Linked DNA regions of Homo sapiens. The protein of the gene in region 4 purifies or fractionates together with the protein of the main gene of each other region. This does not show direct contact. Each region holds a gene or a part of one and is shown on either strand. Other genes may lie near its edges.

The links.
Region 1: the proteins of FRK (region 4) and PDCD11 purify together in Homo sapiens (affinity purification with mass spectrometry; one large-scale study listed by BioGRID and IntAct). This does not show direct contact.
Region 2: the proteins of FRK (region 4) and PSMD5 purify together in Homo sapiens (affinity purification with mass spectrometry, with the first as the bait; one large-scale study listed by BioGRID). This does not show direct contact.
Region 3: the proteins of FRK (region 4) and NUP210 purify together in Homo sapiens (affinity purification with mass spectrometry; one large-scale study listed by BioGRID and IntAct). This does not show direct contact.
Region 5: the proteins of FRK (region 4) and DDX23 purify together in Homo sapiens (affinity purification with mass spectrometry; one large-scale study listed by BioGRID and IntAct). This does not show direct contact.

The regions. Positions count from the first base shown.
Region 1 is NC_000010.11:103,423,305-103,427,891, reverse strand, and holds part of PDCD11 (protein RRP5 homolog), read right to left. Parts: intron 4,350-4,587; coding exon 4,234-4,349; intron 2,909-4,233; coding exon 2,367-2,908; intron 564-2,366; coding exon 501-563; intron 1-500. UniProt on the Homo sapiens protein: Essential for the generation of mature 18S rRNA, specifically necessary for cleavages at sites A0, 1 and 2 of the 47S precursor. Directly interacts with U3 snoRNA. Involved in the biogenesis of rRNA.
Region 2 is NC_000009.12:120,818,140-120,822,726, forward strand, and holds part of PSMD5 (26S proteasome non-ATPase regulatory subunit 5), read right to left. Parts: intron 3,326-4,587; coding exon 3,216-3,325; intron 2,841-3,215; coding exon 2,700-2,840; intron 25-2,699; coding exon 1-24. UniProt on the Homo sapiens protein: Acts as a chaperone during the assembly of the 26S proteasome, specifically of the base subcomplex of the PA700/19S regulatory complex (RC).
Region 3 is NC_000003.12:13,409,933-13,414,519, forward strand, and holds part of NUP210 (nuclear pore membrane glycoprotein 210 precursor), read right to left. Parts: intron 1-4,587. UniProt on the Homo sapiens protein: Nucleoporin essential for nuclear pore assembly and fusion, nuclear pore spacing, as well as structural integrity.
Region 4 is NC_000006.12:115,938,229-115,942,815, forward strand, and holds part of FRK (tyrosine-protein kinase FRK), read right to left. Parts: intron 4,398-4,587; coding exon 4,186-4,397; 3' UTR 1-4,185. UniProt on the Homo sapiens protein: Non-receptor tyrosine-protein kinase that negatively regulates cell proliferation.
Region 5 is NC_000012.12:48,831,462-48,835,502, forward strand, and holds part of DDX23 (probable ATP-dependent RNA helicase DDX23), read right to left. Parts: intron 3,037-4,041; coding exon 2,859-3,036; intron 2,059-2,858; coding exon 1,816-2,058; intron 1,113-1,815; coding exon 961-1,112; intron 726-960; coding exon 617-725; intron 1-616. UniProt on the Homo sapiens protein: Involved in pre-mRNA splicing and its phosphorylated form (by SRPK2) is required for spliceosomal B complex formation.

The DNA.
Region 1 (4,587 bases), on a different chromosome or scaffold from region 4:
GTCTATCAATCTGAGAGGCTGGGTTCTTTTAGAGAACTCCTCGTTCTCCTCCCCACAGAGTATCTCATGGAACACCCTTCTCTTCAGAATCTACCCCACCATGACCTGAAATTCCTATTCAGCCTCCAGCCCACCACACAGTCGTCTAGGTTGAAATAACAGGTATTCTTGGATACATGTTGCTTATTTAGGGAATTACTGAGTTATAGAAAATTGGGTTGAGAGCAAAAATGTTTCTTTTTGTGACATGCTGACAAACAGAACTGAAACCAGGCTTTAAATTGATACTTAAAACCTGTACACAGCTTTTGCATTAATTTTCATATGATCCCTCCAGCCCTAGGAGAACCAAATATCCCCACTAGAGAAACAAGAAAACTTGGACAGAGAAAGGCAAAAATCAATCCTAACACTGGTAAAATCAAGATTCGAATTCGGGATTCCTAATTCCAAAGCCCAGTGCTCTTTCCGTAAGACAGTGCTGCTAATGTCCCCCTCACCTTGGCCGAACACTCAGCTCCGGGATGGTTCGAACGAATCTGGGGTGACTTATTGGGAGATACCTGGAGAAACAAATAAGCTGAATCATTTCTCTTCATCTCTGTAACACAGTAATCTGTAGGTCAGGATTTCTCCCTACTCTCCACCAAACCAAGCTCACAAAAGCACCCTGTTCCACTGTCACACCACCACTGAAGACAGATGTGTCAGGCTGAAGGTTTCCATTCCCAACCTTTGCAGTTATTAGTAAGGAGCAGGCTCATCTGAATTTTTTTTTTTTCTGGGACAAGGTCTCACTCTGTCACCCAAGCTGGAATGCAGTGGCGCAATCATGGCTCACTGTAGCCTCAATCTCCTGGGCTCAAGCAATCCTCCCAGCTCAGCCTCCCAAGTAGCTGGGACTATAGGTGTATGCCACCATGCCCAGCTAATTTTTATTTTTATTTATTTATTTTTTTTTTTGTAGAGATGGGGTCTCACCATGTTGCCCAGGCAGGTCTTGAACTCCTGGGCTCAGGTTTTCCACCTCCCTCATCGTCCCAAAGTGCTGGGATTACAGGGTTCAGCCACTACACCCAGCCTCACCTGATTTTTTTTTTTTTTTTGAAACGGAGTCTCACTCTCTTGCCCAGGCTAGAGTGCAATGGCACAATCTCAGCTCACTGCAACCTCTGCCTCCTGAGTTCAAGTGATTCTCCTGCCTCAGCTTCCCGAGTAGCTGGGACTACAGGCACTGTGCCCGGCTAATTTTTGTTTTTTCAGTAGACGGGGTTTCACCATGTTGGCCAGGCTAGTCTTGAACTCCTGATCTCAGGTGATCCACCCACCTCAGCCTCCCAAAAGTGCTGGAATTACAGGCGTGAGCCACCGTGCCTGGCCTGATCTTTTAGGATTGTCATATCAGATCCTGAAAACAATTTTCCTTACAGTCTATATACTCCAATTCTTTCATTCTAAAAATAAGGAAACTGAGGTCTTTATTTAGAGGATAATTGACTTACTGAAGACCCCACAGTTAGCTACTGAAATTAATATGCAAATTATTGGCCAGACTTTGAATTCTTTTTTTGCTGTTCTTGTTATAGCAAGAATTTCTGCTACAGTAACATGTGGCACTAGATTTAAAGTAAATGAGGATAATTAAAGTGGGAGGTGGAGAATGACAACTGCAGATGTATACAGCGCAGTAACTGAGGCCAGCAACCCACTAGGCAAAGAACAGACTACACGTTCTCTCTTTCAGTCTTCACCATGGCCCTACAAAGTAGTCGCTACCATGACTCTCACGTTACAAATTAAGAAAATAAAATTTGGACTTAAGTAGCTACTGCCACATGGTCACAGTTAATCTAGAATTCAAACCCGGGTCTGACTCCAAACCCATGTTCTTAACAACCACACCATATATTCCATATTTTTAAAAAGAATAATGCACTGTAATCCCAGCACTTTGGGAGGTGGAGGTGAGCAAATCACAAGGTCAGGAGATTGAGACCATCCTGGCTAACACAGTGAAACCCCATCTCTATTAAAAACACAAAAAGTTAGCCGGGCGTGGTGGTGGGTGCCTGTAGTCCCAGCTACTTGGGAGGCTGAGGCAGGAGAAGGGTGTGAACCCAGGAGGCAGAGCTTGCAGTGAGGCGAGATCACACCACTGCACTTCAGCCTGGGCAACAGAGTGAGACTCCGTCTCAAAAAAAAGAAAAAAAAAAGAATCTTGCAAAATAATTCTTTGGTGAATGCCTTTTGTTAACTAAAAGAGAATCTGACTTACATGCAACTTTTTGGAGCCCACCTACTTTCCCAGTCCTCCCACAACAACAACAATCTCCCTCGAAGCCAGCCCACCCCCAGAGCCTCCATACTTGAATGTCTTCATGTCTCGCCCGCCAATCACTCGGGCAGTGACCGTCTTCCCAACCTTCAGCTTGGTAGTAGGAGAGGTGCCCTCTGGAACATCATCTAGAATGTGGGAGGCATGGATACAGCCAATAATGCCATCTTCCAGAGTCACAACCACATGGGTAGGCTTAATGGACTTGACAGTCCCTGTGACCATGTCCCCGATGGAGAGGGTGTGCTTCTTTATGGTCCCTACAGTCAGAGCTGGATCCACTTCTTCATCCTCATCAACTGTCTCAGAGTCCTTCTGGGTCGGCCTCATGGTCCTCTTGGCAGCCGGCCCCTCCACAGCCAAAAGAAGGCCAGTCACTCCTGGTTCTGTGGTCTTGAGGGTTAGGGAGACACCCTGTCCCACCTGCAATTTCTCTGAGTCAAAGCGGAAGGTGTCGTTGAGGTGAGAGGTCAGGGAGAAAGCTGCCAGGTGGCCCGTCTCTACCAAGGAGGCAATGGCAAAGGACTTCTCCAAGTGCTGCACAATCGCCTGGTGTTCGCTGCCTTTCCTCAGCTAGAAGAGAGAAAAGCCACCATCCCTGCTTTCCTTACACAGCATGGTCACTCACTCATGGCCCCACTGGGCAGGGTGTGGCTGAGGAAACCCTCTGGGGTCCCAAGGCTAGGGAACTCAAGGCTGGTCTGAGCTGGAACAGACTAGCCTTCACTCCCTGGACCTAGCTTTCCTCTCCTGTACACTAAACTCATGGGGCTGCCTCTGAATTACCTTGGCTTGGTTTTTGCTTTGCTTTGAATTTAAATTGCAAGACCCTATCCTAGATCTAGTAAATCTGAATTTTACAAGTTATTGAGATAATTCTGATGCACAGCCTTGCAACCTCTAACAGCTCTCTCAGCTTAGAGACACTGTGGTTCCTGAATCTGTCCTGCAGCTCCCCCACCCCCAATTAATCACTCTTCAACCCAAGCAATGAATAGAGTCATTACTGAGAGCTTATTGTGTGCAAGGCACCTAGCCTCTCTTTCCTCAAAATCCAAATTGTGCTCATGCTCTTATATGCCCAAGCTTCCCTTAGGTGATAAAATGGTACAGGGTCCTGCTAGAAAACTGAATGAGAGGTTAGTATTGCTTTCCATTCTCTCTCTGTCCTAAACTCTTAATACTGTAAGCAACTGGAAATTAAGGATTATATCTACACTGCACCATACTCTGTGCAACTAGGTGCCTAATAAGTGCTTTAGACAATAACCAAATATATTCATCACCCAGAGAAAAATAATAATTTTTCCCTCAAACCCATTCTTATGTCACACAAAAGTGTCCAGAAGACAAGGCAGGCGAGGGTGTGGACGCACAGCTTGGAGGTCTGAACTGCCCACAGACATGCTGTTTGGCTCATGGGATGTTTTTAAAAAAATAAGTTTCCAACATTTTCAGCTTTTATTTCAAATAAAAATCCAAATTCTGCCTTCTCTTAAAAATCAAAGATTTAGCAGCAGTAGCCCCAGATTCCCACCCGGCAACAATTGGGCGGGACTGAACAGTCTCAGCCCCACAGGGGCTGGGCATGCACTCTCCAGCTCGTCAGAGTCCCAGGCCAGCCACTCCCTACCCACACAGCCAGCTCCACTCCTGCACACTATTTATCTGTCTGGCCCTAAAGATGGAGTGCCCATGTAACTTATCACCGGAACCAGAACAGAAGTCAGCACTATGAACCACACCAGGACAAGAGGTCTAAACCGGGGGTGTCCTGGATCCATCCAGACATAGGGCTACCCTTGCTACAGGCATCTGAGTTGGAATCCCTGAACTGGAGTGGGGTTGAAGGGTACATCATGTGAAACCATGGAAATGGAAGTCAGGAGCAAGCTTACCTTTCTAGCTTTTCTATTCACCAAGTCCTGGTGAAGGGAAACGTGCACTTCCAACTTCAAAAGATCAACATTTAAGATAACAACCTTCTTTTTCTGCCCAGATTCCACCTCCTGCCCTGCAGTGCAGAACCACAGTGTGATTATCCTTCTGGAACAGAGTGAAGGGAGAGCAGCACCTCTCACATGTAGCTGCTACCCCTTAGATCCAAAAAAGCAAAGAGGACACATGTCCTGGGTCCATACGGGCCATAATTAGGGAAATCAAGGGTCTACCTCCCATAGTTCAAGTTCAGGTAGGCCTTAATTTATGTAACCTAATATATAAAAATCTAGATTTACCCAATTGTAACAATT
Region 2 (4,587 bases), on a different chromosome or scaffold from region 4:
AGCCCAGGGTTGGTTTGCAATGGCCTGAAATGGAAGGCAGAAAGAATACAATTCCCCTGAGTGGAAGTTGTTTGTTAATGGGATGGCACAATATTTACAAAGAAATCTGGCAACATGAACTTTAAAAATGTTACCTTTTGTCTAAGTAAATTCCTTCCTGAGAATCTAACTTAATAAAATAATCTTAAATATGAAAAATCTTTGTATACAAAAATGTTCATAATAGTGTGAAAGTTACAATATAAATATCTAATAATGGGAGAATGGTTAAGTAAATTATGGTATATAGCAATAAAAATAAACATTAACAATAATGTTTACAAAAAATAGGAAATGATACAGGTAAACCTGTTATATAAAAAAAGCAGATTCAAATTATAAACAATGCATGATTACAACAGTGGAAAAATAAAAACTAAAGTAGAAAAGACTAACCTCAAGATACTCATATAGTGCACAAACATTTTCAAGAATGTTCATTGTGGTATCATTTGTAAGATACTATCTAAATCTTCATTTATAGGAGAATGATATATTGTGGCTATTCAATGAAATACCAACTTTCTAACTGCCTCTTTTAACATAGACAAATTTTAAAAAAACGTAACATTGAAGAGAAAAAAAAAAAAAGCAAAAACTGCAATTACTTTTGCACCAACCTAATGGAATGATACAAACAGCATGATACCACTTACAAAGTTTATGAATATCTAAAATACTGTGTTTTATTTAAGGATACACACAATATGTAGTAGAAATATGAAATCATTTATGGGCCCTGACTTTGTGATAGTGATTTTATCTAAGAACAGAGGAAGGGGAATAGGACTGGGCAGAGGTAGCAAGATACAACTATATTTGAAATATTTCACCAAAAATAAACACACACTAATACAAAAACTAAAAGGAAATACACCAAAAGGTAGAACTTTCTGTGATTTTAAAAAATTCTACTTCTAAGTCTTTTCCAAATTTTAAGATTAAGTTTTTCAAAACCTATTACGTTTTAATGAAAAAGAAGTAACAAGTTTATGGCCTAGTTTTTTCCTCTCAAAATGTGTTCCACAGACAAGTAGCATCAGCAACACCTGCGAGCTTGTTAGACTTTCAGGATCCCAGGCTCTGCCCCACAACTACTGAATTAGAATCTACATTTTAATAAGATTCCTAAGATTAATGTTTGAGAAACTTTGGCCTGCTTCACAACCAAGCATGAAAGTAGGCAGAAATAAAAATAGTTATCCCAACCAGTAAATAGAAAATTATTTCTACAATGGAACCAGCTAAGCACAGGATAAGGTAGAAGAGCAAAACCAAAATAAACTAATAATGAAAATACTAAGCAGGATCCAAAATGGCCATCTCATACAATGACCATTTACAAGGGTGAAGCAGTCTTAAAGAAATGTTTCTGGCTAGGCGCGGTGGCTCACGCCTGTAATCCCAGCACTCTGGGAGGCCGAGGCGGGCGGATCACAAGGTCAGGAGATCGAGACCATCCTGGCTAACACAGTGAAACCCCGTCTCTACTAGAAATACAAAAAGAAATTAGTCGGGCATGGTGGTGGGCGCCCGTAGGCTAGCTGCTCGGGAGGCTGAGGCAGGAGAATGGCGTGAACCCGGGAGGTGGTGCTTGCAGTGAGCCAAGATCACGCCACTGCATTCCAGCCTGGGCGACAGAGCGAGACTCTGTCTCAAAAAAAAAAATGTTTCTGAAGATTATAGGAATACCTGTATCCTTCAAGACCCAGATCCTGTATCGCATCCTCAGGAAGCCTTCCCTCTTTTGTCCCTGCCATTTTCCTTATTCCCTCCCAGTCTAGGCCATGTATGCTGTCTGAGATCCCATTATTGATATGATTACTAAAGCGATTACTATCTTGCTATGCTGGGGCTACAAAGATAAATCAGATATGCTTCCTGCTCTCAGCCAACTCTACTTAATAGGTAAGACAAGTCGATAAATAAACATTTGCAAAATAATATAACAAATAGAACACAAAGGTATAATCCTTACCACAGCTGTAATTATATAAGTAACTGTACAATTATATTTACTGCCTGGCTCCTTCAATAGACAGGAAACTACATGAAAGGAAGGTCTTTATATATTTTCTTCACTGTTGTATGCCCTTCACTGAGCAAAAACGGAAACTCAACAAATATTTGCTGAATAAATAAATGCAACATATGAGAACCAACATTGTTTAACTCAACCTTGTCAATCTGGGCAAAGTGTGCTGAAGACAAGGAGTTAGTCCTTGACGAGTGAGTAAGAGGTTAAGAAGCAAAGTTAAGGAAGAGTGTTAGATACGGAGACCCCAGCAAAGGTCCAGAGACACAAAACAAACAGTTTGGTACCACTGGAGCATTAGGTGCCAGAAGCCTTATTTTCTGCACGGGAAATAAGGATTAGGAAGACCAGGGCTAGGTTAATAGAGGATGGCAGATAAAAAGTCTGGAATTAACTGTGTGATCCCATAGCATCCTGTTCAAACCTCAAACAGCACCTAATATCTTTTACTGAAACAATCTGTTTACACATCTGTCTCCTTACTTAGTCTCTAAGGTAGCAGAAGGTAGAAACTATACTATGCACTTGTGCATCCCCAGAGATGGCACAGGCTCTGGCTCACTGTTAAGTACTCAAGTGTTGAGCTGGCAGGGTCCCAGAAGGACCTATGGAAGTGAATACCTACCGTAAACACTTTTAAGGCAGCACAGTGTAGTTCAGGGAAGGGCTGACTACTAATGCCACGGAAGAGCTCCAGTGGATCCCGAGATAAAGAAGAAAACCAGGATTCTGTCATCCTCAGAAGGTCATCAGTCTGCTGCTCAGGCTACAGGAAAGAAAAGGAAAATCTCATCAAAAGTTAACTGATCTGGAGAAAAGCACTTATTTAGAAGTCAGACACCTGAGTGCTGATGGCACTCTGTCATTAATTTGTTGTGTGAAACTGGCTAAGTCTGGAGGACTCTTTCTCAAATCCAGCCCAGACCTTTCCCAGTTTTCTTTGAATGTGGTTGATTAAGCAGTCTCTAGAGTCTCTTCAGTTCTAACACTCTATGATTCCATTTTAAATTAAAAATGTCACTAGTCATATAATGAGGGTTATCTTCTTGTATTTACTTCATCACATTTATCATGTTGATTCATACAGATTTATTCTCCCAAACATATCCCACTGTCCTTCATTATTTCCCTACCTACTTACTGGTAAGTACAGAAGAGATGAAATTGCATCCAAACATCTAATTTTTAGCTCCACTGGGGCATTCTTTGATTGATGTCCTATTCTCATAAGCAAGCGTTCAAAGCGAGTTCCTTTGAAGGATAACAGTGAGATTCTTCTTTATTATGGTAAAATATACACAACATAAAATTTACCATTTTAACCATTTTTAGTGTATAGTTCAGTGCTATTAAGTACATTCACACTGTTGGGCAACCATCATAACCATCCATCTCTAGAACTTTTTCATCAACCCAAACTGAAACTCTGTATCCATCAAACAATAATTCCCTTTCTTCTCTACCCTCATCCCCTGCCAACCACTATTCTACCTCCTGTGAACTGGACTCTTTTAGGCATCTCATCTAAGTGGAATCATACAATATCTGTCCTTATGTGTTTGGCTTACTTCACTTAGCATAATGTTATCAGTGGCGCAGGCTTCCTCCATGCTGTAGCATGTGCCAGAATCTCATTCTTTTTAAAGGCTGAGTAATATTCAATTGTATGTATATACCACATTTTGTTTATTGATTCATCTATCAATGAACATTGGGTTGCTTGCACCTTTTTTTGGTTATTGTGAATAACGCTGCTATGAACATGACTGTACAAACATTTGTTTGAGTCTCTGCTTTCAATTTTTTTTGGTATATACCTGAAAGTGGAGCTGCTGGATGAAGGAAATATAAAATGTACAAGGGTTACAATTTCTCCACATCCTAACACTTATTATTTTATGGGTTTTTTTTTAAAGTAATAGCCATCCTAATGGATATGAAGTGAAAAATGAGATTTTTTTAAAGTATGCTCTCATACACTATGACCTCTACCAACCTAAACCAATACAAAAATAAGCATGTAGTCAGAGAACCAGTGACAGGCCTAGAACACATAATTACACGCAACACAGCATATATAAGGCAAAGTTATAAAACTGGAATCAAAGGACCTGGACTTGAGTAGCAGCTGCCATAATTTGTATGACCTTAGAAATTTTCTTAACTCCTCTAAGTTTCATCTACCTTATCTGGAAAATGAAAATGACAATGTATGTTCTTTGCAGGACTGTAAAACGATTGTCATAGGTAAAAGCACTTAGAAAACGACATATAACAAAAATATTAGCTGTGATACACAACAGCGTATTAATTTTCTTTTTTTCTTTTTCTATTTTCTAATTTTTATTTTTTTGAGATGGAGTCTTGCTGTGTCACCCAGGCTGGAGTGCAATGGCGCAATCTCGACTCACGGCCCAGGTTCAAGCGATTCTCCTGCCTCAACCTCCCGAGTAGCTGGGATTACAGGCGCCTGCCATCACACCTAGCTAATTTTTGTATTTTTAGTAGAGACC
Region 3 (4,587 bases), on a different chromosome or scaffold from region 4:
TTCAAGCAATTCTCCTGCCTCAGCCTCCCGAGCAGCTGGGACTACAGGTGCACGCCACCTGTAATTTTTAGCACGTCACCCAGCTAATTTTTTTTTTTTTTTTTGTATTTTAGTAGAAACGGTTTCACCGTGTTGCCCAGGCTGGTCTCTAAATCCTGAGCTCAGGCATTCTGCCTGCCTTGGCCTCCCAAAGTGCTAGGATTACAGGTGTGAGCCACTGTGCCCAGCTATTACTGATTTTTTTTTCCTTTTTCTTTTTCTTTTTGAGACAGAGTTTCACTCTTGTTGCCCAGGCTGGAGTGCAATGAGACAATCTCGGCTCACCGCAGCCTCCACCTCCCAGGTTCAAGTGATTCTCCTGCCTCAGCCTCCCGAGGAGCTAGGAAAAGGCATGTAGCACCATACCCAGCTAATTTTGTATTTTTAGCAGAAATGAGGTTTCTCCATATTGGTCAGGCTGGTCTCAAACTCCTGACCTCAGGTGATCCGCCCACCTTGGCCTCCCAAAGTGCTGGGATTACAGGCGTGAGCCACTGTGCCTGGCCAATACTGATTTTTAAAAGCACCACTGGGCCAGGCATGGTGGCTTATGCCTGTAACCCTAACACTTTGGGAGGCCAAGGTAGGAGGATCACTTGAGACCAGGAGTTTGAGACCAGACTAAGCAACAGTGAGACCCCATTTCTAAAAAAAAAAACAAAAAGGCCGGGCACGGTGGCTCACACCTGTAATCCCAGCACTTTGGGAGGCCGAGGCGGGTGGATCACGAGGTCAGGAGATCGAGACCATCCCGGCTAACATGGTGAAACCCCGTCTCCATTAAAAAATACAAAAAATTAGCCGGGCGTGGTGGCAGACGCCTGTAGTCCCAGCTACTTGGGAGGCTGAGGCAGGAGAATGGTGTGAACCCAGGAGGCGGAGCTGGCAGTGAGCTGAAATGGCACCACTGCACTCCAGCCTGGGTGACAGAGCAAGACTCTGTCTCAAAAAAAAAAAAAAAAAAAATTAGCCAGGTGTGGTGGCATGCACCTTTAGTCCCAGCACTTTGGGAGGCCAAGGTAGGAGGATTGCTTGAGGCCAGTAGTTTGAAACTAACCTGTGCAATAGTGAGTCTCTAAAAAATAATAATAATAAATAAAAATTTTAAAAATTAGCTGGGCGTGGTGGCTCACATCTATAGTCCCAACTACTCTAAAGGCTGAGGAGGGAGGATCACTTGAGCCCAGGAGTTTGAGGTTATAGTGAGCTATAATTGTGCCACTGCACTGCAGCCTGGGTGATAGAGCAAGAATCTGTCTCAGAAAAATAAAAGTACTACTGAAGTTTTAAAATCCAGCTGAAGGAAACTGGGTAAACCAACAATCATCTGAGAAGGGTGGCGCATTTCCCCAGGCATCTGAGAGTGAGTGTGGTTCTGGATCTGAGGCTGGTTTTGGACACAGCTCTGCCACTAACCAGCTGTGAGGCTCTTGGACCCAGGCTCCTCATTTGTACAGTGCAGTCATTCTTACCAAAGGAGTTTTGTTTATTGTTCATTTTTAGGATTAAGTGGGGGCATAGTATGCAAAGGGATTAACAGAAAAATTGGTTCTTTCATTTTGGCTCCCTCTGTCCATCCCCCCTGTCACCACCCCCACATCTCCTCTGCAACACTGGAAGCCCCTGCCTCTGGACCTGCAGGCTGTGGCCAGGAAGGGCAGTTGCCTAGACACCTGCACCTGCCGACGGCCCCTCCCCACCATCAGGCTCCTCTTGGTTGGACACCTGCCCTAGCCCAGTCACATACAGGTATGACTTGTATTCGTTTATTTACTTATTTATTTATTTGAGACAGTTTCACTCTTATCACCCAGGCTGGAGTGCAGTGATGCAATCTCAGCTCACTGCCACCTCCGCCTCCCGGGTTCAAGCAATTCTCCTGCCTCAGCCTCCCAGGTAGCTGGCATTATAAGCGCCCAGCACCACGCCCAGCTATTTTTTTTGTATTTTTAGTAGAGATGGGGTTTCACCATATTGGCCAGGCTGGGCTCGAACTCCTGACCTCAGGTGATCCGCCCTCCTCGGCCTCCCAAAGTGCTGGGATTACAGGCATGAGCCACTGCATCTGGCCAGCCACTGCACCCGGCCTAGTTTTTTTAATAGACAGGCTCTCACTCTGTTGCCCAGGCTGGAGTAGAGTGGTACAATCATGGATCACTGCAGCCTTGACCTTCTGGGTTTAAGCAATCCTCCTGCCTCAGCCTCAGGAGTAGCTGGGACCACAGGTGCCTGTGCCACACCCAGCTTTATTTTCCTTTTCTTTTTTTTTTTTTTTTAGTAGAGACAGGGTTTCGCTATGTTGCCCAGGCTGGTCTTAAACTCCTGAGCTTAAGCGATCCTCCTGCCTCAACCTCCCAAAGTGCTGGGATTATAGGCATGAGCCACCATGCTCGGCCCTTTTCTTATTATTGTATTAAATGGATTCTTCTTTACTAAAAAATTACTTTAAAAGGAAACCTTGGCCAGGTGTGGTGGCTCACACCTGTAATCCCAGCACTTTGGGAGGCAGAGGAGGGCTGATCACCTGAGGTCGGGAGTTCGAGACCAGCCTGGCCAACATGGCGAAATCCCGTTTCTACTAAAAACACAAAAATTAGCCGGGCATGGTGGTGGATGCCTGTAATCTCAGCTACTCAGGAGGCTGAGGCAGGAGAATCGCTTGAACCTGGGCAGCAGAGGTTGCTGTGAGCCAAGATCTTGCCACTGTACTCCAGCCCAGGCAATACAGCAAGACTCCATCTCAATTAAAAAAAAAAAAGGGAGGCTGAGGCAGGTGGATCATGAGGTCAGGAGAGCAAGACCATCCTGGCTAACATGGTGAAACCCCGTCTCTACTAAAAATACAAAAAATTAGCTGGGCATGGTGGCGGGCACCTGTAGTCCCAGCTACTTAGGAGGCTGAGGCAGGAGAATGGCGTGAACCCAGGAGGCGGAGCTTGCAGTGAGCCGAGATCAGGCCACTGCACTCCAACCTGATCAACAGAGCAAGACTCTGTCTCAAAAAAAGAAAAAAAGCCAGGCACAGTAGCTCACGCCTGTAATCCCAGCACTTTGGGAGGCCGAGGCAGGCAGATCACGAGGTCAGGAGTTCGAGACTAGCCTGGCCAATATGGTGAAACCCCGTCTCTACTAAAAATACTAAAATTAGCCAGGCGTGTTGGCACATGCCGGTAGCCCCAGCTACTCAGGAGGATGAGGCAGAAGAATTGCTTGAGGCCGGGCGCGGTGGCTCACACCTGTAATCCCAGCACTTTGGGAGGCCGAGACGGGCGGATCACGAGGTCAGGAGATCGAGACCATCCTGGCTAACATGGTGAAACCCCATCTCTACTAAAAATACAAAAAAAAGTTAGCCGGGCGTGGTGGCAGGCGCCTGTAGTCCCAGGTACATGGGAGGCTGAGGCAGGAGAATGGCATGAACCCGGGAGGCGGAGCTTGCAGTGAGCCAAGATCGCACCACTGCACTCCAGCCTGGGCGACAGAGCAAGACTCTGTCTCAAAAAAAAAAACAAACAAACAAAAAAGGAAACCTTACACACTAGTGTAAATAAGAATATCACAGCATTTGTCATCCATCCAGATGACTCAAAGCAGTGTCAGTAAGTCCTGGGGGGAAGCTGCTACCTGCAAAGACTCTAGGCGTCTGCCTGTTCTCTTGGGAGACAGGCAAACATCAAAGAGTACAATGAAAAGATGGTGTTGGCCAAGGCCCGAGCAGGAGAAAATAGGGAGTTGCTATTTAATGGGTACAGAGTGTCCATTTGGGAAGATGAAAGAGTTCTGAAGGTGGATGGTGGAGGTGGCTGCACAACAATTGTGAACGTACTTCATGCCACAGAACTCTACACCTAAAAATGGTTAAGGAGGTCGATTATATGTTATATATATTTTACCACAATTTAAAATAAAAAAATATGTAAACCACATACAGACACCAGAAGAAAACTTTTATTTTGAGGAAAATTAAAGGACTGACAGTGAGTTTTGAAAGAGTGAATTTTTCTCATTCCCACTGTCGCATGAGGCCCCACTGGCACACAGAATGTGCTGGCGTCTGGCAGGCACTGCTTTTGAGGGGGTGCTCCCCACTCTTCACAACACAGGAACAGGAGGCAGGCAGGCCATAGGGGAACTCAGGGACCTGGGTCAGGCCAGAAAGCAACAGTGAAAAGAAAAGAGAAGTGAGAGTTGCACAAAGAACAAGGATGGGTGAGGGTGGTGGATGACACACGCCACCTCCCATCCACCCGCGGGGTCCAGCCCCTAACGGTGCCCAAAGGCAGTGTCTACAGAGCGGAAGCCACCTCGTGGGGCTGACAGAGCTCAGGCAGAGTGGGGGACCCACAAAGGAAGCAGGAAGAAAATCACCCAAGGCCCAAGTCAACCCAGGTCCACAGACACTTCCTGGCACTTCCCTGCTGCGGGCCTGGTGAAGGGAGTTGAGCAAGGCCCGGTCCAGCCCTGCAGGGGCCACAGCTACAGACAGCCCTCAGGGGCCAGGGAGAACGAGGCCCAAAAACCAGGCCCAGTCTAACCCTGCCCACATCT
Region 4 (4,587 bases):
GGTAAATAATAAAATTAAGGTAGAAATAAAGTTGTTCATTGAAACCAATGAGAACAAAAACACAACATACCAGAATCTCTGGGACACATTTAAAGCAGTGTGTAGAGGGAAATTTATAGCACCAACTGCCCACAAGAGGAATCAGGAAAGAACTAAAATCTATACCCTAATATCACAATTAAAAGTACTAGAGAAGCAAGAGCAAACAAATTCAAAAGCTAGCAGAAGACAAGAAATAACTAAGATCAGAACAGAACTGAAGGTGATAGAGACATGAAAAACCTTTCAAAAAATCAATGAATCCAGGATCTGATTTTTTGAAAAGATCAACAAAATAGAATGCTAGCCAGACTAATAAAGAAGAAAAGAGAGCAGAATCAAATAGACACAATAAAAAATGATAAAGCGGAGATCACCACTGATCCCACAGAAATACAAAATACCATCAGAGATTACTATAAATACCTCTAAGCAAATAAACTAGAAAATCTAGAAGAAATGGGTAAATTCCTGCAAACATACACCCTCCCAAGTCTAAACCAGGAAGAAGATGAATCCCTAAATAGACCAATAACAAGTTCTGAAATTGAGGCAGTAATTAATAGCCTACCAACCAAAAAAAGTCCAGGACCAGATAGATTCACAGCCGAATTCTACCAGAGGTACAAAGAGGTACAAAGCTAGTACTATTCTTTCTGAAACTATTCCAAACAATAGGAAAAGAGGGACTCCTCCCTAACTCATTTTATGAGGCCAGCATCATCCTGAAACCAAAACCTGGCAGAGACACAACAAAAAAAAAAAAAGAGAGAAAATTTCAGGCCAGTATCCCTGACGAACATCCATGCAAAAATCCTCAATAAAATACTGGCAAACTGAGTGCAGCAGCACATCAAAAAGCTTATCCACCACGATCAAGTTGGCTTCATCCCTGAGACACAAGGCTGGTTCAACATACGCAAATCAATAAACACAATCCATCACATAAACAGAACCAATGACAAAAACCACATGATGATCTCAATAGATGCAGAAAATTTGATAAAATTCAACACCCCTTCATACTAAAAACTCTCAATAAACTAGGTATTGATGGAACGTAGCTCAAAAAAAATGACAGATTTAAGACAAAACCACAGCCAATATCATACTGAATGGGTAAACCTGGAAGCATTCCCTTTGAAAGCTGGCACAAGACAAGGATGCCCCCTCTCACCACTCCTGTTCAAAATAGTATTGAAAGTTCTGGCCAGGGCAATCAGGCAAGAGAAAGAAATAAAGGGTATTCAAATAGGAAAACAGGAAGTAAAATTGTCTCTGTTTGCAGATGATATGAATTGTATATATAGGGAACCCCACCATCTCAGCCCAAAATCTCCTTAAGCTGATAAGCAACTTCAGCAAAGTCTCAGGATACAAAATCAATGTGCAAAAATCACACACATTCCTATACACCAATAACAAACAGAGAGCCAAATCATGAGTGAACTCCCATTCACAATTGCTACAAAGAGAATGAAATATCTAGGATTACAACTTACAAGGGATGCAAAGGACCTCTTCAAGGAGAACTACAAACCACTGCTCAAGGAAATAAGAGAGGACACAAATAAATGGAAAAACATTCCATGCTCATGGATAGGAAGAATCAATATCGTGAAAATGGCCATATTGCCCAAGGCAATTTATATATTCAGTGCTATCCCCATCAAACTACCATTGACTTTCTTCACAGAATTGGAAAAAACTACTTTAAACTTCATATGGAATCAAAAAAGAGCCCGCATAGCCAAGACAATTCTAAGCAAAAAGAACAAAGTTATAGGCATCATGCTACCTGACTTCAAACTATACTACAAGGCTACAGTAAACAAAACAGCATGGTAGTGGTACCAAAACAGATATCTAGACCAACAGAACAGAACAGAGGCCTCAGAAATAACACCACACATCTACAACCATCTGATCTTTGACAAACCTTACAAAAACAACCAATGGGGAAAGGATTCCCTATTTAATAAATGGTGTTGGGAAAACTAGCTAGCCATATGCAGAAAACTGAAACTGGACCCCTTCCTTACACCTATACAAAAATTAACTCAAGATGGATTAAAGACTTAAATGTAAGACCTAAAACCATAAAAACCCTAGAAGAAAACCTAGGCAACACCATTCAGGACATAGGCATTGGAAAAGACATCATGACTAAAACACAAAAACCAATGGCAACAAAAGCCCAAATTGAGAAATGGGATCTAATTAAACTAAAGAGCTTCTAGACAGCAAAAGAAACTATCATCAGAGTGAACAGGCAACCTACAGAATGGGAGAAAATTTTTGCAAGCTATCCATCTGACAAAGGGCTAATACCAAGAATCTACAAGGAACATAAACAAATTTAAAAGAAAAAAACAAACAACCCCATCAAAAAGTGGGCGAAGGATTTGAACAGACACATTTCAAAAGAAGATATTTATGCAGCCAACAGACATATGAAAAAAAGCTCATCATCTGATCATTAGAGAAATCCAAATCAAAACCACAATGAGATACCATCTCACACCAGTTAGAATGGTGATCATTAAAAAGTCAGGAAACAACAGGATGCTGTTTTGGATGCCAAAGAGGATGTGGAGAAATAGGAACACATTTACACTTTTACTCTGTTGGTGGGAGTATAAATTAGTTCAACCATTGTGGAGGACAGTGTAGCAATTCCTCAAGGATCTAGAACTAGAAATACCATTTGACTCAGCGATCCCATTACTGGGTATGTACCTAAAGGCTTATAAATCATTCTGCTATAAAGACACATGCATGTTTATTGTGGCACTATTCACAATAGCAAAGACTTGGAACCAACCCAAATGCCCATCAACGATAGACTGGATAAAGAAAATGTGGCACATAGACACTATGGAATACTATGCAGCCATAAAAAAGGATGAGTTCATGTCCTTCACAGGGACATGGATAAAGCTGGAAACCATCATTCTTAACAAACTAACACAAGAACAAAAAACCAAACACAGCATGTTCTCACTCATAAGTGGGAGCTGAACAATGAGAACATATGGACACAAGGAGGGGAACATCACATACTGGGGCCTGTCAGGGGATGGAGGGCTAGGGGAGGAACAGCACTAGGAGAAATGCCTAATGTAGACGACGGGTTGATGGGTGCAGCAAACCACCATGGCACTTGTACACCTATGTAACAAAACTGCACATTCTGCACATGCACCCCAGAACTTAAACTATAATAAAAAGTAAAAAATAAAAAATAAATAAAACTCTGATCTGTAGGCCAAAGGGTACTTCTTTTTCTTTATTAATTACTCAGAAGTCTAGGCCACAGCAATCCTACTGTTCTCCTCTCATTTTCCTAAACTATTTTGATACCTATTTCTCAGACTTTATGGGCTATTAGACATTTCTCACATTTCCATAGATAATAACTCATCCGTTTTGCAACCTGATTCTCAATATTAAGAGATTAAAACTAATGTATATGACTCTCAGTTGACACATACTGAAGTACAGAAAAATTCCATCATTTCCTTCTGCAAAATGAAAAAGACTTCGTTTTCTCAACAGCTGCATCATTTTTTTATGCATAGAAAAAAATGTGCAATTACTCCAAGTACAATCAAGTCATTTAACATGGCTTTACCATCATTGTAGTTACAGGATATTTTAAAAGAGAAAAAAAAATCTCAAAGCACAGGTCCTGCTGTGCAGCAAAGCAATCAAATTCCTTCATAATAACAGCCTGATGGGATTCAGCAATCTGAGGAATAATGAATAACCACTCTAATCAGTAAACAGGAAAATGCTACAACAGTCACTGAGTAAAAATTGGACTATCATCTGTTGATTCTCTTGATCGACATTTCAAACAATAAATGGAAATGTAAGTATCTCTTAAAAAGAAAAATAACTTGGTTTAGTGTGCTTAATTTTACCAGGCAGTGAGGAAATTATATATCACCTTGACTGTCCTGCAGTGTTGCCCAGTCAATAAAATGCACAAATAATCTTTTTCATAATACATGGCCAACTTTATCCTATCACTTGAATATGTCAGGATAAACTGATTGTGCAGTTGGTTGATAACATTGTATTTTGGAATGGATTATTTGAATTTGTTTTGCTACTTTATTATTTGATATTCTTCTCCAGTGTTCATCTTATGAAGTTATTTGCATCTGAATATGAAGAGTCTGTTTCAAAATAGTCTTCAAGTTTCCAACGCAGTGTCTCAAATGTAGGTCGTTCCTTAGGCTCTGCATTCCAGCACTCCAACATGATGTTGTAAAATTGCTGTGGACAGTTGGATGGTTGCGGAAGTCTATAGTTTTGAGCCAACATCTGGATTACCTGGGCACCTGTCATACCTTGAAAATACAGAACGAAACCAACAACAACAAAAAAAACAAGTTAAAGGTCAGAGTCTTAAACTTATAGCCATTTATACTCTAGGTTACTAAGTAAGTCAATTTCTTTGGCAAAGATTTAAGGTCTGCCATCCCCTTCTCAGGTTACACAGATTAAACTAAATCCTGCAGCAAGTGATGTCTATAAGAC
Region 5 (4,041 bases), on a different chromosome or scaffold from region 4:
GAAAGAAGGAGAGAACAAGTGAGCTGAAGAGAGGGATGAGAGAAAAAGGTGTGGTGTGGCAGGGACACACAGAGTAAGGTCAAAGGCAAAACAGCTGGGAGAGCGGTGGAGCCAGACAGATGAAAAGTCCTCAAAGAGAATTAGGGGCGAGATCAGGGTAGAAAGCAGGGATCAAGAAGTTTAAGGAAGTTGGAGAGCTGAGTGACAGGGACACACCCCTCCCCTCAAGCACCAGTGACAGGAGTAAAGGACACTGATTATCAGCTCCCTTCTGACCATATCACCTCCTCTCAACGTACCTAAGCAGTTTTCACCTACTCTTTTCTACATCCTCAGACTGCCAGGATATGGGTCTCAAACCTTTCCCTGGCTCCACCTCACCAGGATGAAGACCCAAGGCAGCTTTGGCTGGCATTACTGCAGCAGACAGGGGGTCCCAGCAATTGATTCCATTCTCTTTATTCCCTCAAACCACCCTTCACCCTGGTCCTAACTTGTTGATTGCTGGACAGGCTAAAGAAAGGGTGAGACTTGAAAGGAAGAGCCTAGGGGGCCCTGCTAGATTCAGAAAGCAGTGCCACAGAGGCTAGACTTTGTTCTCCCCTGCCAGACACACCCCCATCTTCTCCAGGGATTTGGCCAACACGTCGCAGCCCTTCTTCTGGTTGACAAAAATAATGATGGGTGGGTCAAAGCCTTGCTCCAAGATTGCCAGCAGCTTTTTCCTGGAAGGAAGAGGAGAAAAACAAGATGCATAATACCTCCCACTCCAAGTGAAATGCCCAACCCTCATCTATGAACACTACTTTCAGGGTCTTTAATGCCCATGACATTCTGCCCAAGAAAACAGCAGCTCTTCAACACAGCAGAGCAATTGCCCTGCCCTGCACCTGCACTAAAAAAGTTCTCAGAGCCATTTTATTCTCCACCCTGTTTCCCCTGGCTCAGCTGCCCTCATACCTCTTTTCTGACTCTGACATGAGGAAGACCTTCTGTTCCACACGCTCATGGGGCTTGCCTGCGGAGCCAATGTACACCACAGCAGGTCGCCGAAGATAGCTCCTGGCCAGACGCTCCACCGCTGGGGGCATGGTGGCCGTGAACATGACTGTCTACGAAAACAGGAGGCTCAGCCCTGCACCCAGGCAGGAATAATCATATATCCCACTGTCACCGAAGGCAGGTCAGCCCAGACTAAAGAATCTAAAATGGGCCACAGTATAGGCTTTGATAGCCACCACCTTAGAAAATAGTGTCCTCTGAATTCCCATCCTTCCTGAGTACCTGCTCATCAAGGCACTTTCCATCTTATGATGACAGGAAGGATTGAGAGCATTTGCTAGCACCTGTGGTCCCGGTAGCAGCATGAGTCTTTGGAATCGTTTTTCCAGGGCTAAGCTAAATGGCTCCACCCTTAGGACTGTCAGAGGACTGTACCTAGGCACACTTCATTCTAGAAACATGTACTCTGAGCCCACCTAAGGCAAGAAAGGCCCAAAAGGAGGTTGGCAACCTTGTACAACTTTTCTTTTTTTTTGAGACAGGGCCTCACTCTGTTGCCCAGGATGGAATGGAGTAGTGGCACGACCTCAGCTCACTGCGACCACTGCCTCCCAGGCTTAAGAGGTCCTCCCACCTCAGCCTCCTGAGTGGCTGGCACCACAGGTGTGCACCACCAATGCCCAGCTAATTTTTTAAATTTTTGTAGAGACGGAGTTTCGCCATGTTGCCCAGGCTGGTCTCAAACTCCTGAGCTCAAGTGATCCACCCGCCTTGGCCTGTCCAACTTTTCCCAGCCCAGGGAAGCAGCCTTACTTGGCGGTACTTATGTTTTCCCGACTCAAAGTTGGCCAGCATCTTCTCAGGGTCCTCAGCCTCATCCGTGTCTGGCTTCTGGTTGCTGACAGGCATGTGCTCCAGGATCTTCTGGACATCTGGCTCAAAGCCCATGTCAATCATCCTATCTGCCTCATCCAGAACCACATAGGTACAGCGGCTCAGCACCAGGTAGCGGTTCTCCAGCACATCAATCAAACGCCCAGGGGTAGCAATCACAATCTGAGGAGTACAGTATAATCATTTATAGCCCAGCAGGTGCCCCTTCTTTTCTTTCCTGTGAACTATCCACCCACTTGGGTGACAGACCTCCAATGCTGAGGAACTTGGACCCCAACCTCTGGTTATGTTTAGCAGTAAAGGCTCCTGCAAACTGGCATGAAATCACTTGTTGCCTGGATTTTCTCAGGAATGAATGAGGTCTCTGAGTAAGGTGCAAGGATTAGACAGAGGAGGCAAAATCAGTAGAAACTTTTTTTTTTTTGGCAAATCATTTCAGATCCTGAAGAAGGAACTTCTTAGATGGGAGAGACTAAGGGGTACTATGAAGGGGGTTGTATAAAGACTAAATTTTTTTAAAAAATTGTAAAAAGACTAAATTTCTACAGCAGACTTCTCATAAAGAGCTCTCCTCCACTTTCCTGAGATGAAGGCAATGCACAAAGTCAAAGATTTGGTCTGGCAGAGTAAAGAGTAACTAAAAGCACAGGCTATGGATATGAGTCTCAGCTCTGCCCATTGCCAGCTGTTTGTGACTTCAGGCAGTTATTAACCTGAACCTCAGCTTGATCTATAACAAGGAAATACCACTCTCATACATTATTGTGAGAATTAATGAGCTAATATATATGATATATACTATTTGTGATATAAACCCTGGTGCATAAGTTCTCAATAAATAGCACATATATATAAACCAGCTCCTTTCTTCATACTACTGCACATATATTCCAGAAACTAGAAACAAAGCCCCAAGATAGCCTTCCCAGACAGCAGGCTGGCTGCTAGATAGAAAAACAAACCTCACAACCCATGCGCAGCCTGAAGCCCTGGTCTTCTCTGGAGATGCCACCAATGACAGCCACAGTGCGGATACCTAGCGGTTTCCCAAACTTGATGGTCTCTTCCTCAATCTGTTGAGCCAACTCACGGGTGGGAGCCAGGATGATGGCATAAGGGCCTTGGTCTGACTCTTCGATCCTGTGGTAAACAGGGTGCCCCACAGCTTCGTGAGCTTTGGTTCTTATCCAACCACAAGCCAGAGCAAGACAAAGTCACTCTTACGGGGAGCAATGGGAATGGGGAGGATGATGAGAAAAGAATGCAATGATCTCACTTAAAAATCAGAGGCCAGGGCTGGGCATGGTGGCTCATGTCTGTAATCCCAGAACTTTGGGAGGCTGAGGCAGGCGGATCACCTGAAGTCAGGAGTTTGAGACCAGCCTGGCCAACATGGTGAAACCCTGCCTCTAATAAAAATACAAAAATTAGCCAGGCGTGGTGGCCGGCGCCTGTAATACCAGCTACTCGGGAGGCTGAGGCAGAAGAATCGCTTGAACCCAGGAGACAGAGGTTGCAGTGAGCTGAGATCACGCCACTGCACTCCAGCCTGGGTGACAGAGACACTCTGTCTCCAAAAAAAATAAAAATAAAAATAAGTCCAGAGGCCAGGCAAGGTGGCACAAGCCTATAATCCGAGCACTTTCGGAGGCTGAGGTGAGTGAATCACTTGAGCCCAGGAGTTTGAGACCAGTCTAGGCAACATGGTAAAACCCTGTTTCTACAAAAAATACAAAAATTAGCTGGGCATGTTCGAACACACCTGTAATCCCAGCTACTTGGGAGGCTGAGGTAGGAGGATATGAGCCTGGGAGGCAACGGTTGCTGTAAGCCAAGATCACACCACTGCACTCCAGCCTAGACAATAGAGCGAGACTCCATCTCAAAAAATAAATAAATAAATAAATAATAAATACATAAAAATCAGAGATTCAGCCAGGTGCAGTGGTTCACGCCTGTAATCCCAGCACTTTGGGAGGCCAAGGCAGGCAGATCAGTTGAGATCGGGAGTTTGAGACCAGCCTGGCCAACATGGTGAAACCTCATCTCTACTAAAAATGTAAAAATTAAGGACAGGCACACTGGCTCACGCCTGTAATTCCAACACTTTGGGAGGCTGAGGCAGGCAGATCACTTGAGGTCAGG